Regions from separate parts of the Homo sapiens genome. Here region 2 is linked to region 1. Evidence: fine-mapped expression QTL. A gene starts in region 1. The other region holds a variant in brackets. All regions are shown on one strand. Distances are between the middles of the regions. Region 1 holds the start of FAM32A (family with sequence similarity 32 member A). Region 2 overlaps AP1M1 (adaptor related protein complex 1 subunit mu 1).

Evidence for each region. PIP is the estimated chance that this variant, and not a neighbour inherited with it, causes the effect.
Region 2: its variant is fine-mapped to the expression of FAM32A in whole blood (TOPMed, PIP above 0.99).

What each region holds. Positions count from the first base shown.
Region 1 is chr19:16,183,562-16,186,470 of GRCh38, forward strand. FAM32A (family with sequence similarity 32 member A) reads left to right here and starts at 1,849. Exons shown (of 4, transcript NM_014077.4): 1 at 1,849-1,955; 2 at 2,063-2,204. The coding sequence starts at 1,882. RefSeq lists enhancers at 856-1,491, 1,394-1,443.
Region 2 is chr19:16,214,553-16,217,461 of GRCh38, forward strand. The region is part of intron 5 of AP1M1 (adaptor related protein complex 1 subunit mu 1); the gene reads left to right. Among named protein-coding and RNA genes, the nearest start is that of AP1M1, 18 kb to the left of the region's middle. The variant A/G (reference allele first, on the strand shown) is at 1,528.

The DNA of each region.
Region 1 (2,909 bases):
AAAAGATATATTCAAGGGCCGGGCACGGTGGCTCACGCCTGTAATCCCAGCACTTTGGGAGGCTGAGGCAGGCGGATCACCTGAGTTCAGGAGTTCGAAACCAGCCTGGACAACATGGCAAAACCCTATCTCTACTAAAAATACAAAAATTAGCGGGGCATGGTGGTGGGCGCCTGTAATCCCAGCTACTCAGGAGGCTGAAGCAGGAGAATCTCTTGAACCTGGGAGGTGGAAGTTGCAGTGAGCCAAAATCGTGCCACTGCATTCCAGCCTGGGCAACAGAGCGAGACTCTGTCTCAAAAAAAAAAAAAAAGATATATGCATGTACACATCGTATGTAAGAAAACCGCACAGTACTGAAAGGATGAAAAGAAAGAAAGAAAGGGCCAGGGGTGGTGGCTCACGCCTGTAATTCTAATGCTTCAGGAGGACTGCTTGAGGACAGGAGTTTGAGACCAACCTGGACAACACAGCAATACCCTATCTCTATTGATTTTTTTTTTTTTTTTTTTTTTTTGAGACGGAGTCTTTGTCTGTTGACCAGGCTGGAGTGCAGTGGTGCGATTTTGGCTCACTGCAACCTCCGACTCCCGGGTTCAAGCGCTTCTCCTGCCTCAGCCTACCAAGTAGCTGAGACTACAAGCGCAGGCTACTATGCCCAGCTAATTTTTGCTTTTTGTGTTTTGTTTTGTTTTGTTTTAGTAGATACAGGGTTTCGCCATGTTGGCCACGCTGGTTTCCAACACCTGACCTCACGTGAACCGCCTACCTTGGTCTCCCAAAGTGCTGATTTAAATATATATGTACTTTTTTTTTGAGATGGAGTCTCTCTCTGTCGCCCAGGCTGGAGTGCAGTGGTGTGATTTCAGCTCACTGCAACCTCCGCCTCCCGGGTTCAAGCGATTCTCCTGCCTCAGCCTCCCGAGTAGCTGAGACTACAGGCGCCCGCCACCACGCCCAGGTAATTTTTTGTATTTTTAGTAGAGACGGGGTTTCACCGTGTTAGCCAGAATGGTCTCCATCTCCTGACCTCGTGATCCGCCCACCTCGTTTTCCCAAAGTGCTGGGATTACAGGCGTGAGCCACCGCGCCCGGCATAAAATAGATTTTTAATTGTTTTAACATACCACCAACCTTGTCACATGATATTGTCATTTACCTAAAGCTGAAAAATTAATGAATACTGATTAGGTTTACAAAATTAGGTTCAGCTATCCAGTGAACGCTCAAAATATGGCAATAAAAGAGAACGGGGGTGGTGGGGCGTGGCTCAGGCCTGTGATCCCTGCGCTTTGGAAGGCCGAAGCAGGAGGATCACTTGAACCCACGAGTTCGAGACCAGCCTGGACAACACAGCGAGACCCCATCTCGACAAAAAAATTTAAATGAAAATATTAGCCGCGCTCAGTGGCGCCCGTCTGCAGTCTGCTACTGGGGAGGCTGAGGCGGGAGGATCTCTTGAGCCCAAGGGTTCAAGGCTGCAGTGAGCCACGATCGCGCCACTCCACTCCAGCCTAGGTGACAGACCAAGATCGTGTCTCTAAAAAAGAAAAAAAAATCAAGGAGAGAGAACAGGTCACCCAAAAGTGCGCAAAACGCTCAAAAAGGGGTTGGGTTTCCAGCACCCTGTGTGAAGAATGGGAGACCGGAAGTGGGCGCCAAATTCGGAAGTGTGGCAGCAGATAGGAATCGAAGGGCACTCATTCGCTTGGCTCTCTGTCCCGCCCACTACCCGGAAGTGTGGCCCGGGTCCAGAACCAAGAGCGCATGCTCACCTTGTAGCTCAGCCAATCAAAGAGAAGCGAGGCGGCCATTCGGGCGGAAATAGTGTTTGCAAACAGGAAGTGTGGCACTCCAGCTACCGAAGCACTGGAGAGTGTCATGGAGGCCTACGAGCAGGTCCAAAAGGGACCCCTGAAGCTGAAAGGCGTCGCAGAGCTGGGAGTGACCAAGCGGTGAGGCCCGAGGGCCCGCGGGATTCCGTCTTCATCCCCCTTAGACCTTTTCTCGGGACCCCTGGCCCTGATCCTCCGACCCGCCGCCTCCTCATGTCTTTTTCCAGGAAGAAGAAAAAGAAGGACAAAGACAAAGCGAAACTCCTGGAAGCAATGGGAACGAGCAAAAAGAACGAGGAGGAGAAGCGGCGCGGCCTGGACAAGCGGACCCCGGCCCAGGCGGCCTTCGAGAAAATGCAGGAGAAGCGGGTGAGCAGAAGCAGAAGGCGGCGGGGAGGCGGGAACACCCGGCGCCGGGAGACTGGAAATTGGGGTCAGGGCTGGGACGCTCCGAGGGCAGGGGAGCGGTCAGAGGAGACCTTAATTACGGGGAGAGGATGCTGTACGTGAGTGAGAGAAGAGTCGCCCTCTGCCGGGGGAGCTCCAAGGATGAGAAGACCCCGCTGGCCCGAGTGGGCAGCAGAGGGGAGAGCTAGAACTGGCGTTGAAAGGAGGCCAGAGCTGGAGACCCGGGTTTGGATTCCAGTGCTGTGGCTTATTTGCCCTGCGACACTAGGCCAGTGACTTTCTTATTTCCGTGCCTCAAGTTTCCTCTTCTGTACGAGTCAGGGTAGTAACTTATTCTAAGAGGGTTGGGAACTTGAGAGGAAGTCATGAAAGTAAAAAGCAGTGCATACATGTTCAGTGGATGCCAGCTCTTGATATTAAATGGCCATGCTCGCCGCTCGAAGTCACCACAAAGTTTGTTTCCAAGACAACTTTGTTTGGCAGATTCAAACATGCTGTATTTTTTAAAAAATTAGTTATTTTTGGCGGGGTCAGAGCACTGCAGCCTCTGCCTCCGGGGTTCAAGCAATTCTCCTGCCTCAGCCTCCCGAGTAGCTGGGATTGCAGGCGCCCGCCACCACACCTGGCTAATTTTGGTATTTTTCGTAGAGATGCGGTTTCACCATG
Region 2 (2,909 bases), 31 kb after region 1:
TGTTGGCCAGACTGGTGTCGAACTCCACACCTCAGGTGATTCGCCTGCCTCAGCCTCCCAAAGTGCTGGGATTACAGGCATGAGCCACCACACCCGGCCTTCTTTTCATATTTAGTACTTCTTTCAGGAGCTCTTGTACAGCAGGTCTGCTGGTAAACAAATTCCCTCAGCATTTGCTTGTCTGAAAGGATCTTTTTTATTCTTCTTTTTTTTTGAGACAGGGTCTCATTCTGTTGCTCAGGCTGGAGTGCAGTGGCATGATCATGGCTCACTGCAACCTCTACCTCCCTGGCACAAGCTATTCTCTGGCCTCAGCCTACCAATTGGCTGGGACTATAGGCAGGTACCACCACACCCGGCTAATGTATATGTTTTTGGTAGAGATGGGGTTTTGCCATGTTTCCCAGGCTAGTCTCAGACTCCTGGATTCAGGCACTCCACCCACCTCGGCCTCCTAAAGTGCTGGGATTACAGGTTGAGCCACCACACCCAAGTTGAAAACGATCTCATTTCTCCTTTGCTGATGAAGCTTAGGTTGGCCAGATGTGAAATTCTGGATTGGAATTTCTTTAAAAATGTTTAATATATTGGCCAGGAGTGGTGGCTTACACCTGTAATCCCAGCACTTTGGGAGGCTAAGGCGGGGGCGGGGGGGGGGGAGAGGGGGGAGGGGGGAGGGGAGGGGATCACCTGAGGTCAGGAATTCAAGACCAGCCTGGCCAACATGGTGAAACCTGGTCTCTACTGAAAATATAAAAATTAGCAGCACGTGGTGGTGCATGCCTGTAGTCCCAGCTGCTTGGGAGGCTGAGGCAGGAGAATTGCTTGAACCTGGGAGGCGGAGGTTGCAGTGACCTGCTGAGATCCCACCACTGCACTCCAGCCTGGGCCACAGAATGAGATTCCATCTCAAAAAAAAAAAAAAAAAAAAAAAAAAAAAGAATGTTTAATATAGGCCTCCAATCTCTTCTGGCTTGTAGGGTTTCTGCTGAGAGGCCCACTGCTAGTCTGATGGGCTTCCCTTTGTAGGTGACCTGCTATGTCTCTCTAGCTTCTTTCATTTTGACCCTGGACAATCTGATGATTATGTGTTTTGGGGATGATCTTGTGAAGTATTTTGCAGGGGTTCTCTGCATTCCCTGATTTTGAATATTGGCCTCTCTAGCTAGACTGGGGAAGTTCTCATGGATAGTATCCTGAAATACGTTTTCCAAGTTGCTTCCATTTTCCCCATCTCTTTCAGGGACACCAATGAGTTGTAGATTTGCTCTCTTTTTTAATCCCATATTTCTTGGAGGCTTTGTTCATTCCTTTTCGTTATTTTTTCTCTATTCTCATCTGACTGTCTTATTTCAGAAAGCCAGTCTTCAAGCTCTGAGATTCTTTCCTCAGCTTGGTCTGTACTACTGTTAATACTTGTGATTACATTATTAAATTCTTATACTGTGTTTTTCAGCTGTATCAGGTCAGTTACATCATTTTCTATCCTGGCTGTTTTGTCTGCCAGCTCATATATTGTTTTATTAT[A/G]ATTCTTAGCCTCCTTAGATTGGGTTTCAATGTTCCTAATCTCAATGATCTTTGTTCCTATCCATATTCTGAAGTCTATTTCTGTCATTTCAGCCATCTCAGCCTAGTTAAGAACTCTTGCTTTGGGAGGCCAAGGTGGGCGGATCACAAGGTCAGGAGATTGAGACCATCCTGGTGAACACAGTGAAACCCCATCTCTACTAAAAATACAAAAAATTAGCCGGGTGTGGTGGCGGGCGCCTGTAGTCCCAGCTACTTGGGAGGCTGAGGCAGGAGAATGGCGTGAACCCAGGAGGCGGAGCTTGCAGTGAGCCGAGATTGCACCACTGCCCTCCAGCCTGGGCGACAGAGCGAAACTCCGTCTCAAAAAAAAAAAAAAGAACTCTTGCTGGAGAACTACTGCAGTTTGGAGGAAAGAGGACACTCTGGTTATTTGAGTTGTCAAGAGTCCTTGTGCTCGTTCTTTCTCATTTTTGTGGGCTGATATTCCTTTAGTCTTTGAAGTTGCTGTCCTTTGAATGGGTTTCTTTTTCCTTTATCCTATTTGATGACCCTGGGGGTTTGATTGTGTATAAGGTGGGTTCAGTTGGATGGCTTCATTATTGGAAGATTTTAGGGGACCAAGGCTCAGCTTAGGACTCCTGAACTGCATGCTCTAACTCTGGAGGACTGGTATCCAGCCCTGGCTTTGATCTCTGGCTCCTTCAGGTTAAGAACCTGCTCTGCTAGAGGGGCCAAGCTGCTCCCAGACAGCTGGTCACAACACTCCAATGGGTGGTGCCAGGCAAAGCACTTCATAGGGTAGTGGCAGCAGGATCTGTTCTTGTTTGCATGTGCCAGCGGCAGCACAGCGGGGTGCACGCTTATCGGCTGTGACAGAGTGCTAGTGGATGTCAGGGAGCCAGCCTCTGGGAGGGCATTTGTAGCAGCAGCAGTAGTGGCAGTATGGCTGGGGTGGGGGCAGGGGCCACGCTGGCAACTGTGCACCTGTTCATTGGTGCCGATGATGGGGTTAGCATGGGGGCACTGGTGGGTGCAGGACTGTGTGTGCCCTTTGTGCATGTTCACACTGGCAGCAGTGGCTGCTCAGGGCTAGGGGTAGGTCCTCTGTTTTCTCTGCCTAGTTTCCTGTGGGAGGCCCAGCATAGGTGGGGAACTGGGAGGGGTGGGGCTGGCGGGCTCTATGCTGCCAACACTCTGACAACAACGGTGGTGGGAGAGGAGAATGAGGGGCTGGGGTGCACTTATGCTGGCAACAGTGGCACAGCAGGGTGCACACACAGGCATGCTGTTGGGGAAGGGTGGGCTAGGTCCACCCACGCACACACCACCAGCAAAACAATATTGAGGGTGCCTGTGGGCAAGAACCTGCAGGCAAAACT